Homo sapiens: one gene and its partners. The protein of the gene in region 3 purifies or fractionates together with the protein of the main gene of each other region. This does not show direct contact. Each region holds a gene or a part of one and is shown on either strand. Other genes may lie near its edges. The genes, in order: PFDN4, COPS7A and DDB2.

Region 1 (3,652 bases), on a different chromosome or scaffold from region 3:
AAGTGAATATATATTTCTCTGGGCTGTTTGTTGCAGATGAATGACGCGATCCACTCTAGTTAAGCAGAAAGTCATTTTTTTTTTAAGGGATATGCGATAACTTACAGAGTTGTTGAGGAGCTTGAGTCTAGACCGAGGTTCCAGGAACAAGTCTCGGAGAACTTGGCTGGCGGTGGAACAGCTGTTGCCTCCACTGATCCCAGAGTCAGCTGTCTTCCCAATGAGGAAGCCACCCTTGCAGACTTAGGAACACCAAGCTGCTGCTGCCAGTGCCACCTACCCCAGTAAATCTGGGGCCTGTGTCCAGCCGTCCCCCTTGAGTTGAAATCCAGCTCAAATGCATTTGATTGGTGGAATTGAAGTTATTATCACTTATGCATGCTGGCAGAACTTTCATTACCCGCATGATTTACTTACACCCTATCAGCAAGCAAGGCTGAGAAATGTAGGCTGGTTTTTTTGGTTTTGTTTTTGTAGGAAGGCAGAATTCACAAAGTCAAAAATTGTTAAAATAGAAGAAATTTTGAGTGACCATGTGCCTGCTGTCCACCACAGGGCGCTTATTGTCCAGAGGACAAAGCTTTAGGTAGCTCTAAGTGCTTGCTTGTGAAATGTCTTCTAAAAAGTTACAAATTAAGGTCTTATTCTAATGTGGTAATAATACCTTTGTGAGAGGGTCCCTCAGAGAGTTGCTGTCCCCAAATTACAATTGGCCTTTAGCTTCTATCAGAGAACTTTGAGTACATTTTCTTTGCCATTTTGCATTTATAGAAACAACTCCAAAACCTAGAAGATGCTTGTGATGACATCATGCTTGCAGATGATGATTGCTTAATGATACCTTATCAAATTGGTGATGTCTTCATTAGCCATTCTCAAGAAGAAACGCAAGAAATGTTAGAAGAAGCAAAGGTATGTTAAAGGTTAATTCTGAAATTAGAATTTATATCACTATAAAGAACATGTAATTATAGATGTAGGGAAATAGTAGATGCTAGCTATAGCTAATATTTACTGCCTTGTTATGTCCCAGGCATGCTCCGAATGCTTTGCCAGCAGGATTTTGTTGAATCATAACGATGACCTGTTATCCCAATTTAGGGACAAAGAATAGAGGCTTAGAGAGGTTATGGGATTTATTCAAAGTGACACATAGACAGTGGTCTTCTGACTCCAGAACCTTGCTCAAAACTAAAAGTATTTAGAAGGTATAGCATATATTGAAGCAGAAAAGAAAAATCCCCTGTAATTCTGCTATGCAGAGGTAACCATTCATAGTGAACATTTTCCTGTATTTCTTTTATGTTCTCTCTGCCTCTCTCCGTGTAGTTTGCTTCCCAGTTGGGACAATTAATGTTCCAGGAGGAGCATTTTTGCTGGTTTCATTGAATGTTTGTTTGTCCAGCAGATACTCATTGGAAGCCTGCTCTGAGCCTGGCACACAGGCCTTTAAAAACATCGTTTTTGAAGACTGTTTAATATCATGTTGATGGTTATCAATTGGGGTCACGGGTCTTATTGTTAGCATTAATTTGTTTCCAATATTTTGCTGTACTAATGTTACTGTGAGCATTCTTCTACATAAATCTTTGTTCACATTTAGAAAATTGTTTTGAGGAAATAATTAGAGAAATATAATTACTGGGTCAGTCAGCATATGAGTTCTCTGATAATATCTGAGACATTTGATACATGGTATGAAATTTTCAGTTCACATGCCTTCTTACTATTTGGGAGGGACAGCCACGTTGTTTGTCTATGAGAAGCAGATGGCAATTAAACCTTTCCTAATGCTTTTGCTAATTAACCTGATTGCTTAAAATGATAGTCTCTCTTCAAATGTCATAAAAAGCAAAACTTCGTATGAATGAAACCCACATTTAGTAAGTCTTCAGAAGAACTATCACTCCTGGGTCTTTCCATGCATAAATCTTATATGTCTCCCTTATGTTTAAATCTTTTCTTCTTGGTCAAATTTTGTGATTTTTGTTCTTTTTATTTGTTTAACCATTTAAAAAACATTTTTATTGGAAGTATTCCCAGATAGCTTATGGTTTTTGTGGCTATTGTGAATCCCCTGCCCCATACACAGATAGCTACTGAACTTTTATTTTATTTTATTTATTTATTTATTTATTTATTTTTTGAGATGGAGTCTTGCCCTGTCGCCCAGGCTGGAGTGCAATGGCGCAATCTCGGCTCACTGCAACGTCTGCCTCCTGGGTTCAAACAATTCTCCTGCCTCAGCCTCCCGAGTAGCTGGGATTACAGGCGCCCACCACCACGCCCAGCTAATTTTTGTACTTTTGGTAGAGACAGGGTTTCACCATGTTGGGCAGACTGGTCTCGAACTCCTGACCTCGTGCTCGTGATCCACCCGCCTCAGCCTCCCAAAGTGCTGGGATTACAGGCGTGAGCCACCACACCCGGCTGAACCTTTCTTTTTTTACTCATTCTAGAATTCTAGAATGAATGGAGTGCTTACTCTGTATCAGGTTCTGCCATGTACTAGGGATAATTGGGGACAACAAAACCTGCCTGGCCCCTGCCTGCATGGAGCATATAGTCTAGATGGAAAGAAAAAAAAGTAAACAAAACTGATAATGAGTAGAAAGTGATATGAGGATAGAGGTGGCTTTAAGAACACAGGAAGAGGAATCTACACTAGTCTGGACATCAAGGGTCAGGGAAGGGCTCCCAGGGAAAGTGATGGGATAACAGCTGAGGAATAAGTGGCTATTAGCCAGAAAGGGGCGGCGGGGGGCGGGGGGTTCTAGTCGTGAGAAGCAACATGTGTGAACGGCCATAGGATGACGGTGGTGCAAACATAGACCTGCAAGAAGATGTATTTGCTGGAGATTGGGAGCACCTGAAATTGTGGCCACATCTTGGAGAACTCCAGTCAGTTGAGTTGAAGAAATTGTACTTTGTCTTAGCAGGGGTCAGCAAACTTTCTGTGAAGGGCCAGAAGTAAATACGTTAGGTTTTGTGGGCTGCACAGCCTCTGCCATAATTACTATGAAAGCAAGATGAGTGAATCTGCGTGGCTGTCTTCCAATAAAACTTGACAAAAACAAGCTTCAGGCTAGATTGGGCCTGTGGGCTATAGTTTGCCCACTCCCGTCCCAGAGCAAAGAGGAGCCTTCAGAGATTTTTGGAAAAGAGAGAGATGATTGGACTTGCGATATTAAAATGACTTTCTAGTGTCTTATTTTACTTATTAACCAGGTTTTCTCGGTATAGAAATTTAGAATTTATCCCTTTCTAGTAGCCATATGTCTTATTTTTGTTTCTTGTTTTGTAACAGTGATTCTCAAACTTAGCATGCGTGAGAATCACAGTCACCACAGGGCTTGTTAAAAATCCAGGTTGCTGGGCCCGACCCAAAGACGATCTTTCAGGTGGGCTGAGGTAGGGCCCCAGAATGTGTATTTCTAACAAGTTCCCAGGTGATTTTGTCCCTGACACTGGTCTCGGGGCCACCGTTTGAGAACCATTGGCTAGATTTCTAAAACGGCAACACTGTCAGTATTAGATATTCTTTGGTTTCTAATGTTAGTGGGTATTTGGTTTGTGTGATTTCATATTTTTTTGTCATGTTTAGGAAAAAAAATTGTTTTGATCCTAGCCAGGAAGGAACTTAATGGCTTTT
Region 2 (2,812 bases), on a different chromosome or scaffold from region 3:
TTTATTTATTTAGCAAGTATTTCTTGCGAGGCAATTACTGCATAGCTCTGTGGGATACCTGAGACTGGGTCTATAATCTTGTTGAAAGATATTCTTAGGTAGCAACCTTCTGCAAGGATTGATTGATTAAGTGCCAGAATGAAGCTGAGCACAGTGGCTCACGCCTATAATCCCAGCACTTTGGGAGGCCAAGGCAGGTGGATCACCTGAGGTCAGGAGTTCGAGACCAGCCTGGCCAATGTGGCGAAACCCTGTTTCTACTAAAAATACAAAAATTAGCCTGGTGTGGTGGTGCACGCCTGTAATCCCACCTGCTTGGGAGGCTGAGGCAGGAGAATTGCCTGAACCTGGGAGGCGGAGGTTGCAGTGAGCCAAGATCGCGCCACTGCACTCCAGCCTGGGTAACAGAGGGAGACTCTGTCTCAAAAAAAAAAAAAAAAAAAAGTGCCAGAATGAGTGATCCATGATAGGAGGAGAGGAAATCTGGGTGGACTGGGCTGGGTGATGCAAGACAGTGTCCTGGTCAGGTGTGTCTGAAGCAGAGACCATAAGTTTAGATGTCTTTCTAGGCTGTGCAGCTGTCAGAGATGAGTGAGGCTGAGGCAGGAGTCTGGTGAATTGGGGAGTACTGGAGACTGTCTAGACATATTCCAATTTAGAAACATCAAACACTCTGAGGGCAGGCAACACAATTTGCAGTGTCTGGTGTGTATGTCTGTTTGACTCTGAAAACTGAATGTCTTCAACTCTGAATTTAGGGTAGGAATTGGATGACGTATGGAGCAAGAGGGCATTGTGGTTTGGGAGAATAGTGTAAACAAAAGCCTGAAGGTGGAAATGAGCCCTTCCTATGTGAAGAGTGATCAGAGAGGCAGAGAACTCCTTTTGGTGAGCCAGGAGAGTTAACATTGGCCGGGAAAGATGGGGCCAAAAAGTGGAGTTCCAAACAGGGTAAGGCTGGGAGGGTGGAGAGGGAAGACTTCCCGTCACCTCCTTTTTCCTCATTCTCGCAGCTGGCTGAGAGTGACTTTGCCTCTACCTTCCGGCTGCTCACAGTGTTTGCTTATGGGACATACGCTGACTACTTAGGTAACCAGAGGGGTTGGTGCTCTGGAGTAATGGAGATGGGAGAAGGGCAATTTCTGGAGGGACTCAGAAGAAATTCCTGGGATATCCCACTTAGATCCCTGGATGCATAGGGTCAGGGTCAAGACCTGAATTGGCATTGAAAGTGGGAGGGAAGGGAAGGAGGCTAGGGCTTCCCAGAAAACTGAAATCAGGATTCCTTACACTTTGTCGTTTTTCCCTAGCTGAAGCCCGGAATCTTCCTCCACTAACAGAGGCTCAGAAGAATAAGCTTCGACACCTCTCAGTTGTCACCCTGGCTGCTAAAGTAAAGGTGAGTGGCAGTCCCCCAGTCCTACGGTCTAGAGCATCCTTTTGTATGTCCTTGGGAGTCCACACTAGGACAGCCCTTGTCTAGACCGTGGCTGCTTCCTGCCCTCCCCTCCTCCAAGGTCTGTATATAAACTCCATTAGCAACTGTTTAGGCTGATAGTATTCTTAGTTTTCTGTGTTGTTTTTATTTTTTAATCAACTTAAGTTCTAAATAAACATCTTCTGTGGTTTTGGTCAAAATAGCAACTAGGATGTTGTTCAGGTGTCGTTCAACAATACCTTCTTCCCCACTGCTGGAAACAGGGCTCTCCTGATGAAGTGCTAGGCTTCTCTTTGTTAGGATAAAACATATATATTCTAGAAGTATCTCTGTATTCCTGTTAGGCTGTTTTTTGTCTAATATCACCACCCACCTCCCCAGCCTGCCCAGTCTGCAACCTCGCAATAGTTACTTGACTCTCAGTTGTCCTTGGGATTTAATTTAAACCAGGCTCTCTATTGAGAGATACCTCCAAAGGAATGCCCGTTGCAGGTAGGCAGAGTATAAATGATAAACAGTAACTCCACACCTCTCCCACTTCTGCTTACTCCCCTGTATCAAGCTGATCTTGACTAAGGACTGGGTGATACCCTGAGCTGTGGCTAAAGGAGTGACACCCAGGCAGATGTCATTTTCTCCTTCTGTGGTGTGTCAGGGGTGAGGGTGTTAGGGGAGCATTTTGTATTTTATTTAAGATTGTCCTTCTAATGATGCTGTTTTTGAAGTGGGAATACTTTTATTTATTTTGCTTTAGAACCAGCCTCTTAGAGGAAGTGATTTAGGAATGGGAGTGGAGGGCAGGTGGGCTAGGGCAGGGGGAAAAGGAGGGAAGATTTTTGGAAGCCCTTCTCTACTACGGAGCGTCACAAATCCTGGCCTGATCTCCGCGGCCCCAGTGTATCCCATATGCAGTGTTGCTGGAGGCTCTTGCCCTGCGTAATGTGCGGCAGCTGGAAGACCTTGTGATTGAGGCTGTGTATGCTGACGTGCTTCGTGGCTCCCTGGACCAGCGCAACCAGCGGCTCGAGGTTGACTACAGCATCGGGCGGGACATCCAGCGCCAGGACCTCAGTGCCATTGCCCGAACCCTGCAGGAATGGTGAGAACCGTATCCTGGCACTGTCCCCTTCTCACCCTGAGAAAGAGAAAGGCGCTTCAGGGTGAGAGAGGGCAGGAGCTGGGCTGGTCCGCAGAGGTGGAACCCAAGAGGATGAAGGGAAATGAGTTCATCCCTCCAAAGGCTTCTGGGGAATGCAGGAGTAGGGGAGGCCCTGGGAGGCGGCAGAAGTCAGTGTCCTTGATATAGTAGTTGGGGGAGGAAAAGGGAGTGGTATACTTAAGGGGATCCTAACCAGCAAGGTCGGTCGCCTGTCT
Region 3 (3,652 bases):
GGGAGGGTGTGATTACAATGGGATACCACGATGGAGTTTTTGGGCTGTTGCAAATGTTCTGCATCCTGATTTGGGTGGTGGTTATTTAAGTCTATACATATGTTAAAATTCAGAGAACTTTATATCCCAAATTTGCTATATGTTAATTAAAAAAAAAAGTAAAAATAAAGCCTTAAGAAATGAAGGGAGGCGGGGCACGGTGGCTCACGCCTGTAATCCCAGCACTTTGGGAGGCCAAGGGTGGCGGATTACCTGAGGGCAGGAGTTCCAGACCAGCCTGGCCAACATGGTGAAACCCTGTCTCTACTAAAAATATACAATTTAGCCATGCGTGGTGGTGGGCACCTGTAATCCCAGCTGCTTGGGAGGCTGAGGCAGGAGAATCGCTTGAACCTGGAAGGCAGAGGTTGCAGTGAGCCGAGGTCGTGACAGAGCAGGACTCCATCTCAAAAACATAAAAATAAAAATAAAAATAAAAAAAAGAAAGAAATGAAGGGGCCAGACAAAGCGGCTCATGCCTGTAATCTTAGCACTTTGGGAAGCCGTGGCAGGGGGATCGCTTGAGCTTAGGAGTTCAAGACCAGCTTGGGCAACGTGACAAAACCCCATCTTAAAAAAAAAAAATAGAAAAATTAGCTGGGCATGGTGGCACGCACTTGGGAGGCTGAGGTGGGAGGATCGCTTGAGCCCAGGAGATTGAGGCTGCAGTGAGCCGTGTTTGTGCCACTGCACTTCAGCCTAAGTGACAGAGAAAGACCCTATTTCAAAGGAAAAGAAAAAGAAGTGAAGGCCCTGTAGAGAGCGTCCTAGTGTCTAAGCTGACCTGGCCCCAAGCGCTGCTCGAGGGGTGCTTCTGTGACGGCGCAGCATGTGTGCCCAGGCCTGGTTCCTCACGGCCAGGCCCATCATCACTCACTGGCTTTTTCCTTCCTCGTGTTAGATTGGAGCTGGAGGGAGCATCACTGGGCTGAAGTTTAACCCTCTCAATACCAACCAGTTTTACGCCTCCTCAATGGAGGGAACAACTAGGCTGCAAGACTTTAAAGGCAACATTCTACGAGTTTTTGCCAGCTCAGACACCATCAAGTGAGTAGTTTAACTAGCAGGGGAAAGGGCTTCTAAGCTTAGGTGTAGTTCCGGCAAGAGCATCCAGATCCCATTTCCTTAACCCAACCTGGCCCAGGGAAGAAAGGAAAGATGTCAGCCACTTTCCGCCCTTCTTTCTCTTTCTCAAACTGCTCCTTGGCTGCCCTCACTTTGGTCCAGGTGGGTTACTGCTTTGGGAAGGTGTTCTGGAGCCTCAGCTCTTCTGTAAGTCATACCTGTATTAGACTGGACCTTGACCCTCACTAGATAAGCCAGCATGGCGTGGACCCAGAAAGCCACCTAGAGAATGGAGCAACAGCTCAGAACTTGAGACTGAATGCCCTGCACTCACTGTGGTGTAATGACCTGACCTGTTCCTGGGTGGAAGCTTATATGGATGGAATCTTTTCCATAAAGTGCTCTGGACTTCCCAAGAGAAAGTGGCTGGAGAAATTACAGAATGCGGCCGGGTGCAGTGGCTCATGCTTGAAATCCCAGCACTTTGGGAGGCCAAGGTGGGTGGATCACCTGAGGTCAGGAGTTCGAGACCAGCCTGGCCAACATGGTGAAACCCCCATCTCTACTAACAATACAAAAAATTAGCTGGGCGTGGTGGTAGGCCCCTGTAATTCCCAGCTACTTGGGAGGCTGAAGCAAGAGAATCGCTTGAACCCAGGAGGCAGAGGTTGCAGTGAGCCGAGATGGCGCCATTGCACTCCATCCTGGGCAACAAGAGCGAAAATCTATCTCAAAAAAAAAAAAAAAAAATTACAGAATACTCGTCACTTTGATTTCCAGCTAGAGCCGTGACTCTGACTGCTCCCTGAGGAATTAAGTGAGGGTGCTGGGGTGTAACTAGCATTGGATTGGATCCTGGGCTGTCCCGCAGGGATGAGGAGTGCATGCGCACGCAAATCAGCAGGCAATTGGATAGACAAGGCTCCAGGCTACTCTTCCGCAAGAAATCTTCCTGCTTGAAGATATTCATAGGGGATGGCAAAAGGCAGTGTAGCATGGATTTGAGAGTTTGAGAGAAAAACTGTGAGCTGAGCTCTTCTGGCTGAATAGCAGGATCCCTGAAGCACCCTCCTAGTCAGCCTCCCAGTCCAGTGGTTTGAGGGACCAGAAGAGCTCCTGGTTGTGTTTTTTCCCCCAGTGTTCAGAAGGGGGCAGAAGTGCTTTTCTAGCCAGCTCTGAGGAACAGGGCCAGGCAATCCCTCTTTGGCTTGTGTCTCCTTTGGCCTAAAGGGTGAAGAGTGAAAGGAGAGAGCAGTAAAGGAGGCTTGCTCAGAACCCGGGGTGTGGGGGGCAGGCGTGCCTCAGGGCTTGCTTTATGGTATAAGCTTTGTCTGCTTCAGGGACTTTTAGGAGCTGGGGATCCTGGGCCCAGCCATAACCAGACAGATTTCTGAGCCCCATTATCCCATCCCCTCTGTCTGGACGGTAGAGCAGTCTGAATGTTCCTCACTAGGAATCCACGGCAAGACAGTTATTCATTCATTCAACAAATATTTATTGAATGCCCGCTGTGGGTTAGTCACCGGAGCGGCAACAGTGAGTAAATAGGACTATCTCTGTCCCCAAGAATCTTACAACACAGTCTCTCCCTCCAGCATCTGGTTTTGTAGCCTGGATGTGTCTGCTAGTAGCCGAATGGTGGTCACAGGAGACAACGTGGGGAACGTGATCCTGCTGAACATGGACGGCAAAGAGGTGCGTTCTCCGAGGTCCTGCCTTTCCCTCCCTCACCCCCACCTCGGTTCTGTGTCCCCACCTGAACCGAGCTCTTCTCTGCAGCTTTGGAATCTCAGAATGCACAAAAAGAAAGTGACGCATGTGGCCCTGAACCCATGCTGTGATTGGTTCCTGGCCACAGCCTCCGTAGATCAAACAGTGAAAATTTGGGACCTGCGCCAGGTTAGAGGGAAAGCCAGCTTCCTCTACTCGCTGCCGCACAGGCATCCTGTCAACGCAGGTGTGATATCCCAGACCTCATCTCTCCTGCAGACCCTGCCTGTCTGACCACTGCTGGGGTTTTCCCTCAGTGTGGAAGCCACTACGTCAAACCTTTACCCCTGATAGCGTCTGCCAAGCTGATGTCTGGGAACCTTTGTGGCTGTGGCTGTCCCCATCAGCTGCTGAGTTTCCAGAATTTTTTTGTTGTTGTTCACAGCCCAGATTCACCTCTTCCTTTCCGCTCCTGTCTAGAGAGGAGTGGGAGGGAGAGTACCCCTGCAGGAGAAGGCCTGCAAGGCCAGGACCACAGAGGGCTTGTGGTTCCTTCAGCTCAGGGGCTTTTCACTTTGCCAGCTTGTTTCAGTCCCGATGGAGCCCGGCTCCTGACCACGGACCAGAAGAGCGAGATCCGAGTTTACTCTGCTTCCCAGTGGGACTGCCCCCTGGGCCTGATCCCGCACCCTCACCGTCACTTCCAGCACCTCACACCCATCAAGGTGAGTGGCGGTGGGAAGGAGCTCGCAGAAGGAGGCTGTGATCATGAGGCCGGAGCAGGTCTGCCCACAGTGGGGAAGGGCTGATGTGGTAAGCCTGCCACCCCAGATCGCTC

The links.
Region 1: the proteins of DDB2 (region 3) and PFDN4 purify together in Homo sapiens (affinity purification with mass spectrometry; 4 studies listed by BioGRID and IntAct, with this or other methods). This does not show direct contact.
Region 2: the proteins of DDB2 (region 3) and COPS7A purify together in Homo sapiens (affinity purification with mass spectrometry; 7 studies listed by BioGRID and IntAct, with this or other methods). This does not show direct contact.

Annotation. Positions count from the first base shown.
Region 1 is NC_000020.11:54,214,529-54,218,180, forward strand, and holds part of PFDN4 (prefoldin subunit 4), read left to right. Parts: intron 1-769; coding exon of another isoform or gene 770-771; coding exon 772-912; intron 913-3,652. UniProt on the Homo sapiens protein: Binds specifically to cytosolic chaperonin (c-CPN) and transfers target proteins to it. Binds to nascent polypeptide chain and promotes folding in an environment in which there are many competing pathways for nonnative proteins.
Region 2 is NC_000012.12:6,726,913-6,729,724, forward strand, and holds part of COPS7A (COP9 signalosome complex subunit 7a), read left to right. Parts: intron 1-1,013; coding exon 1,014-1,089; intron 1,090-1,310; coding exon 1,311-1,399; intron 1,400-2,334; coding exon 2,335-2,537; intron 2,538-2,812.
Region 3 is NC_000011.10:47,231,874-47,235,525, forward strand, and holds part of DDB2 (DNA damage-binding protein 2), read left to right. Parts: intron 1-940; coding exon 941-1,086; intron 1,087-2,699; coding exon 2,700-2,799; intron 2,800-2,883; coding exon 2,884-3,061; intron 3,062-3,396; coding exon 3,397-3,539; intron 3,540-3,652.